Linked DNA regions of Homo sapiens: region 1 is reported to be linked to region 2. Evidence: microRNA targets listed by miRTarBase, many of them from high-throughput screens and not tested one by one. Region 2 holds a microRNA gene; the other region holds the end of a gene's coding sequence.
Evidence for each region. Region 2 holds the annotated microRNA hsa-miR-6739-3p (AUUGUUCUGUCUUUCUCCCAG, at 1,624-1,644, opposite strand). A microRNA usually pairs through its seed, bases 2 to 8, with sites in the 3' UTR of a target mRNA and lowers its output. Matches are read on the target gene's strand: a 7mer-m8 pairs with bases 2 to 8, a 7mer-A1 pairs with bases 2 to 7 and ends in A, and an 8mer does both.

Region 1: the mRNA of CAND1 is a reported target of hsa-miR-6739-3p. Seed matches in the 3' UTR shown: 7mer-A1 at 1,781-1,787.

What each region holds. Positions count from the first base shown.
Region 1 is chr12:67,312,365-67,315,778 of GRCh38, reverse strand. It overlaps CAND1 (cullin associated and neddylation dissociated 1), which reads right to left. Exons shown (of 15, transcript NM_018448.5): 15 at 1-3,173. The coding sequence ends at 2,949. Among named protein-coding and RNA genes, the nearest start is that of CAND1, 45 kb to the right of the region's middle.
Region 2 is chr1:201,861,657-201,865,070 of GRCh38, reverse strand. It overlaps MIR6739 (microRNA 6739), which reads right to left and starts at 1,698; the gene lies at 1,624-1,698. IPO9 (importin 9) reads right to left here. Exons shown (of 24, transcript NM_018085.5): 14 at 1,464-1,623.

The DNA of each region.
Region 1 (3,414 bases), not on the chromosome of region 2:
ACAACACCCACTAGAACTGGTTAATTAGATATGCCCATTATTTCTTCACTATTTACCGAAGAAAAGTATGAAGAAAAAAAGACTAATTTGGTTTAATTATGGTTACATAAAAATTATGTAAATATTCAAACATTTGATGAAATCATCATACTCCAACCATAAAGAATTGTAATTCCTAATGGTTAAGCAGCTTTCAGATATCATTAATAAAATACATGACTGTCATTAAAAAAATTATCATTCAGTGCTATTGATTTTATAAATAACCTTTTAGGTTAGGCCCTGCCATACCAAATTTCCTTCCTGCCTTTTTTTTTTTTTTTTTTTTGAGACAGACTCTCGCTCTGTTGCCCAGGCCAGAGTGCAGTGGCGTGATCTCGGCTCACTGCCAGCTCCGCCTCCTGGGTTCACGCCATTCTCCTGCCTCAGCTGTAGCAGCTAGGACTACAGGCGTCTGCCACCACGCCCAGCTAATTTTTTGTATTTTCAGTAGAGATGGGTTTTCACAGTGTTAGCCAGGATAGTCTCGATCTCCTGACCTCGTGATCCGCCCGCCTCGGCCTCCCAAAGTGCTGGGATTACAGGCGTAAGCCACTGCGTCCAGCCCTCTGCCTTCTTTTAAAATAAATCAGGTAGACCTAAACTAACTTAAATGTTCTCATGAAAATCAGTAAACAGCTTGGTTTTGTATTAACTTTTAGATCTCCTCAGGAACCTACATGTGACAAATTCCTAAGTTTAACACCTTAATATTACTAGTAAGTAGCATGAGTGGTAGACTATGTCTGGACTCCACATCCTGCCACTTCCATTCCAGTATCTGGACCACATCACCACTAGGAGTATGGAGTTAATCATCAGTATGACACAGCATTGAAATTCTAAGCACTGCTGTTACTAATTTTGTTAATGTATGCATATAAACAGGTATATAAACACTAAAGCCATAAAAGAGCAGTATCTATTTCTTTAGTACTAAAAGAATTTCAACTGTTAGAAAAATGAATTGGCTTAAGAGACAAAAACAAAGCAAAACAAAACAAAACATGCATCTTGAAAGTTAAAAACAAACAAACTGAAGAAAAAGCCAGTTGAAGTATTTGGATTTAACTTTACCCAACTAAGACATTCACACAACATATGCATGTCAGTCTCCTGTTCAGTCCTAGAGCCTGCAGTATTGTAATTTATTGTAAAACCATGTAACCAAATACTTAAATATATCCACAACATCTATACCACAGAAATGCATAGTACATAATATACTAACATCTCAAAATAAACTTCTATTACAGTTTTATGCAAATTATGGTAAAAGATTATCACCTGCCACATTTTGAAATGGCACCAACTTCAACATCAATGCACTAGTCAAAATCCTTACTAGAAGTGATGTCTTCTGCATTATCATCTGAACATTCAAAATCAAGCTGTTAATCTAATAACCACAGTATGTTATCATTTAAAATCACTGTATATTTGGATGTTAAAGCAGGTAGTAATACAGCAGGAAAAGTGTTTCTAATTCACAGTTTCAAAACTAAAGGGTGCAGTTTTCAAATATCTGATTGCTTAAATTGGTCACTCAATTTAACAACTGCCTCCTTCAATACATGTAAACTATGTTTGCACAGCATTAGGAGATGTCTTTTATTTCAGAATTAGTTCTTACTGTTACAGGAGCACCACAAATTTTAAGGAAGAGGCTACAGTGTGAAATGAGCTCACTGAAGGATATGTTAAATAAAATTTTAACTACAATATAAGGTACTGCAAAAGCTTTGTTCCCCAGCACAGATCCCTTAATCAGGAAAAGTAGTGAACACTTACCCAATACAATATGTAAATTCGCTCTACAGGAGATGGGGAAAAACCTAACTCAACTAAAAGAAAATACTATTATTAGCTAACAAACCTGTGATAGCTGGCTTCAGAATTTTCCTAAAAATAAAATTCAAAAGCATACACAGTATTTATATCCTTTGATAAGGAATGTAGACATCCAAACGGAATGAAAGAAAAATCTGGTTTTAAGAATTTCTAAGTGGAATCACACACACACAAATGGGTAACTGAGAAAAACTAAATATTCAAAATTTAAGTAAGAAGATTTATAATAGAAAAAAGTGGCAAATTGTTACTGTGACTTGATTTTCTGAAAACATCTGCAAATTCACACTGGCATTAAGAAAACCCAAGTCTCAAAAATTCTCCTTTCTTTCTCTCCAGATAATGTGTTTTCTGTGCAAAAATAAATATCTGAAAATTGCACTAATACTTATTTTAACTTCTATATTATGAATAATCTGCACATGCTGCTTTACAGACGATACATATTTGTAAACTTACTCATGCAAAATTAGTGTGCGCAACAGGGATATTGTTAATTTTCATACTTAAAAATGATACCTTATTATCTTTTAAAAATTGCCAAACTCTCTGAAATGGTTAACAAATCTTATATGGATATTCTTGTCTGCCAGCTAAAAATCAATTTATGTTGCTGAAAACAAAAAGTTATACAAGAAAAAGAAACATGGTTTTTGTTTTGCAAGATTTTTGATTTTTAAATGAGAAAATTTATAAAAGAAAGAAATTCATGGTCACAAAATTTTAACATTTTAATCCTAAACATTACAGGGTAAATAGATACTGGACCCTATCTCCATACTCCATAAAATCCTAACTTTTAGTTTCCATTTCAAATGTTGCTGTAACCACTAAAACACTAGTGGTTTTACAACCTCTGGATTATGGAAATACACATTTCTGAAATAAATGCTACAAAAACAACAATGGAAGAAAGCCAAACAAACAGTCTCCATGAAGGAAAAAAAAGTGGAACATTTTGAAGCTTTTAGACACTTCTCTTTCCATGTCTTATGATTAACCTGTCAATTCAGTGCATTGTATGGTCATATGTAATGGTCCCCATGGTGAACAAACATCTAACTAGTGTCCATTGATTCCAAGTTAGTAGATGATGAATCTTTCTGGATACTTTCAAAGATAGCCGCCAGCTCAGGGTTAGAACTGATCTGTGACTGGAATTCACTCATCAGTGGACTCTTCTCTGCTTCTGGAATGGTTAGCAGTGCTGCTACTGCTCTCATGGCAGATCGCTTTAATTCATCTTGTTTTTCAAACTCCTGCTTTACTGAGTTTGCCTTTACCTGTAAGATGGAGTAAACTTAGATTACATGCTATAAAAGACAGCTCTTACATGAACAAAATTTAAGCACATAAGATCTTCCTGCTAAAAGCTACTCTCGTAGGTCCATAAGGCATATTACATTCTAAGAACAACTGTTTTTAAACTTATTTTTAAAGTAGCTGTCTCCTTTTCTTTTAAGGGAATATTTTACACAAAGCCCCATTATAAAAACAGAAAATCTAGACCCAAATGATTGTAAC
Region 2 (3,414 bases):
TTCTTAATCGGGATCCACAGATAGGCTTCAAGGAATCCAGTGTTTGACAATGAATATAAAATTTTGTAAACATATATGAGTGTCCATTTCTCTGGCCCACATATCCACAGCTTTTGTCATCCTACAGAGATATCTGTTACATCTCTCAAGAAAACTATTAAACCACTACCCATGTGGTCCAAGAGATATGAACATTAAAAATAAAAGTTTTCTTCACAGTTCTTCTGATTATAAAAGTAATATAAACTTGTTGAAACAAACAAACAAACAAAATATTTTATATATATAACAGAGAATGAAAGTTCTTTGTACTCTAATCTCCCCCAGAGAGAATCAATGTTGGTAAGTATGCCTGATAGGTACTGCTGTCTACCTAAAACACTCTGGAAAGTAATGGGCTTATTTTACCCAAAGTACTTTCACATTCATACCAAACTCCTCTCACAGCTTGCAGCTGCAAACATTTCCATAAAATCACAACACAAAGTGGATAATTCTCCAATGAAATCAAGTTTCACTAAGGTCAGAAGCTAAACAGGCAGTGACCACAGGTACAAACTCAGAAAAACCCTTAAAATAACATTCATGCCTTAAGCAGCTTAGGGCTCTCTCTTCTCAGACATTTAAAATGGTGTTAGAGCTTTCTGAAAAAGCTATACTTAGTTTGCCTCTTAAGATGATACTTCTAATTATTTTAGAGCCAAAGATCTGCTTCACCTAGATTGAAGCAGAAAAAGATGGGACGGTGTTTATGGTCATAACATTAACCATTTAATTAAAACAGGCAGTTCTTGAATGCTTTCTAATGACATATAACACACGGCATCTCAAAAGATACTCCTCTGCCTCAAAAGATAAGACAGGGCAGGCACATGGAAAATAAATTTTGTGTTGGTAGTTATAGGATTCAGTTGAGATGTTTAAGTTTGAGCCTAAGATATTCCTTAAAACAACAATGGTCCTTCTAGTCTGCGTAGGAATATAAATAAATGACTTTTGATCCATTAGTAACACTAGCCTTAAAAAAGATAGGTAAAACTGGGAAAAAATAAGCAGTGTTTCTAGGTCACATTATCCCAGATTTGGTTTCTAATATAATCAACCAACAAAATGATGTGGACTCTAATCCTGCTTCTATCATTCATCAATTGTGCAACCCTGTGCAAAACATTTTTCTCTCCAAACCTCAGGTTCTTCACCATTGAGAGAAAGGGAGTTGCCTAGATGATTCCAGAACTGGAGCGAATTTAAAGAGGAAGAGGAGCAGAAAGGAACAGGACATCTTCTGGACTCACAAAAGCCATGTCTCTAGCATGGTTTCTTTCCCTGTCCTTCCAACATTCACCCTGAAGGATATCATTAGCAGGGATTTCCAAGCAACATAATACACTGGAAAACTGTGATTTGTTATATCTAACCTGAGCAACTTTCCCTTAATTATCACGCTAGGGTAGCATACTCACCCCCAGATGGCTCTCACTGCAGAAATTCGAACTGATGGGGGCTGTGTCTCGTGAAGACCACTAACTGTTGCCTGTAGGAACTGCTGGATCAGTTCAGGGGACATAGCAACAGTGAACCGACTGGCAGCCCAAAGTGCCCGGCCCAAGAGGAAAGGAGACACTGGGAGAAAGACAGAACAATTAGGGGCTGGAAAATGAAAATTCCTTTTACTTGTTCTTTCTCTTTCCCACATTCATTCCTCAATTTTTTTTTTTTGAGATGGAGTCTCACTCTGTCACCCAGGATGGAGTGCGATGGCGTGATCTCGGCTCACTGCAACCTCCGTCCCCCGGGTTCAAGCAACTGTCCTGCCTCAGCCTCCTGAGTAGTTGGGATCACAGGCGCCTGCCACCATGCCCGGCTAATTTTTTGTATTTTTAGTAGAGATGGCGTTTTGCCATGTTGGCCAGGCTGGTCTCAAACTCTGGACCTCAAGTGATCTGTCTGCCTCGGCCTCCCAAAGTGCTGGGATTACAGGCATGAGCCACCGCATCCGGCCCTCCATTCCTCAATTTTTTAGAAGTAAATAGATGCTACATAATATGTACAACTCATTTGAGAGAAAAAGCATAACCTTGTATGATGAAAGCAAATGTGTGACCTGTGGTACAAAATCAATTTCCCAGTTTTCCCTTGTCTCTTCTGAGCAAAGTAGATCTTGAATATTATTAGACTAAAAAGACTTTACCACCCCAGTCCTCACCCCCAGCTCTCATTATTCCTTACCTGTACTACTAGTTAATCTTTTTTTTTTTTTTTTTGAGATGAAGTTTCATTCTTGTTGCCCAGGCTGGAGTGCAACAGTGCGATCTCGGCTCACCACAACCTCCACCTCCCTGGTTCAAGTGATTCTCCTGCCTCAGCCTCCCCAGTAGCTGGGATTACAGGCATGCACCACCACGCCCAGCTAATTTTGTATTTTTAGTAGAGATGGGCTTTCTCCATGTTGGTCAGGCTGGTCTCAAACTCCTGACCTTAGGTGATCTGCCTGCCTTGGCCTCCAAAAGTGCTGGGATTACAGGTGTGAGCCATGGTACCCGCCCACTTAATCTTCTAAGTTGCCATCTCCATTGCTAGTTTATTCCCACTTTTGGACCACTCTTTTTTTTTGAGATGGAGTCTTGCTCTGTTGCCCAGGCTGGAGTGTAGTGGCACAATCTCAGCTCACTGTAACCGCTGCTTCCCGGGTTCGAGCGATTCTCCTGCCTCAGCCTCCCGAGCAGCTGGGATTACAGGTGCGTACCACCACGCCTGGCTAATTTTTGTATTTTTAGTAGAGAGGGGGTTTCACCATGTTGGCCAGGCTGGTCTTGAACTCCTGAACTCAAGCAATCCACTCGGCTTGGCCTCCCAAAGTGCTGAGATTACAGGCATGAGCCACCGCGTGCAGCCTTGGACCACTCTTAAAACATAAATTATAGCTCTGATCATGTCATTCTTCTATTTAAAATCTGTCAATTAATTCCATAGTCCACCAAATAAAGATTACCTTAGTCATCACGTTATTCAAGGCTCCCTAAGATCAGTGACTCTAGCATTACCTATGATTTCCCTTTATGGTTTCCAAACTCAAGTACACATCCCTCCTTAGCAACTTACATCTTACTCTCCCAGCTCTCTGCCTTGTTCATATTGCAAGCCAACATATTCACCTCCTTGCATTACCTAATTCATCTCTTAGGCTGAAGCAATTCTAACTATCTCTATGCCACAGTAATTCTGTCTTTAGTGTTCTTACATGTTATATATTTCGTTTGATAGTCTAGCCACTAATGTAAGGATTACTACCCTTGTTTACTATAAGCTGCTGAGGAGAGACTATTCTTATTCAGCTTGTCACAGGGCTTAACTTGTTTACTCACACAATAAACATCTTGTTGACGGAAAACACTGAACAGAACCTAATAAACT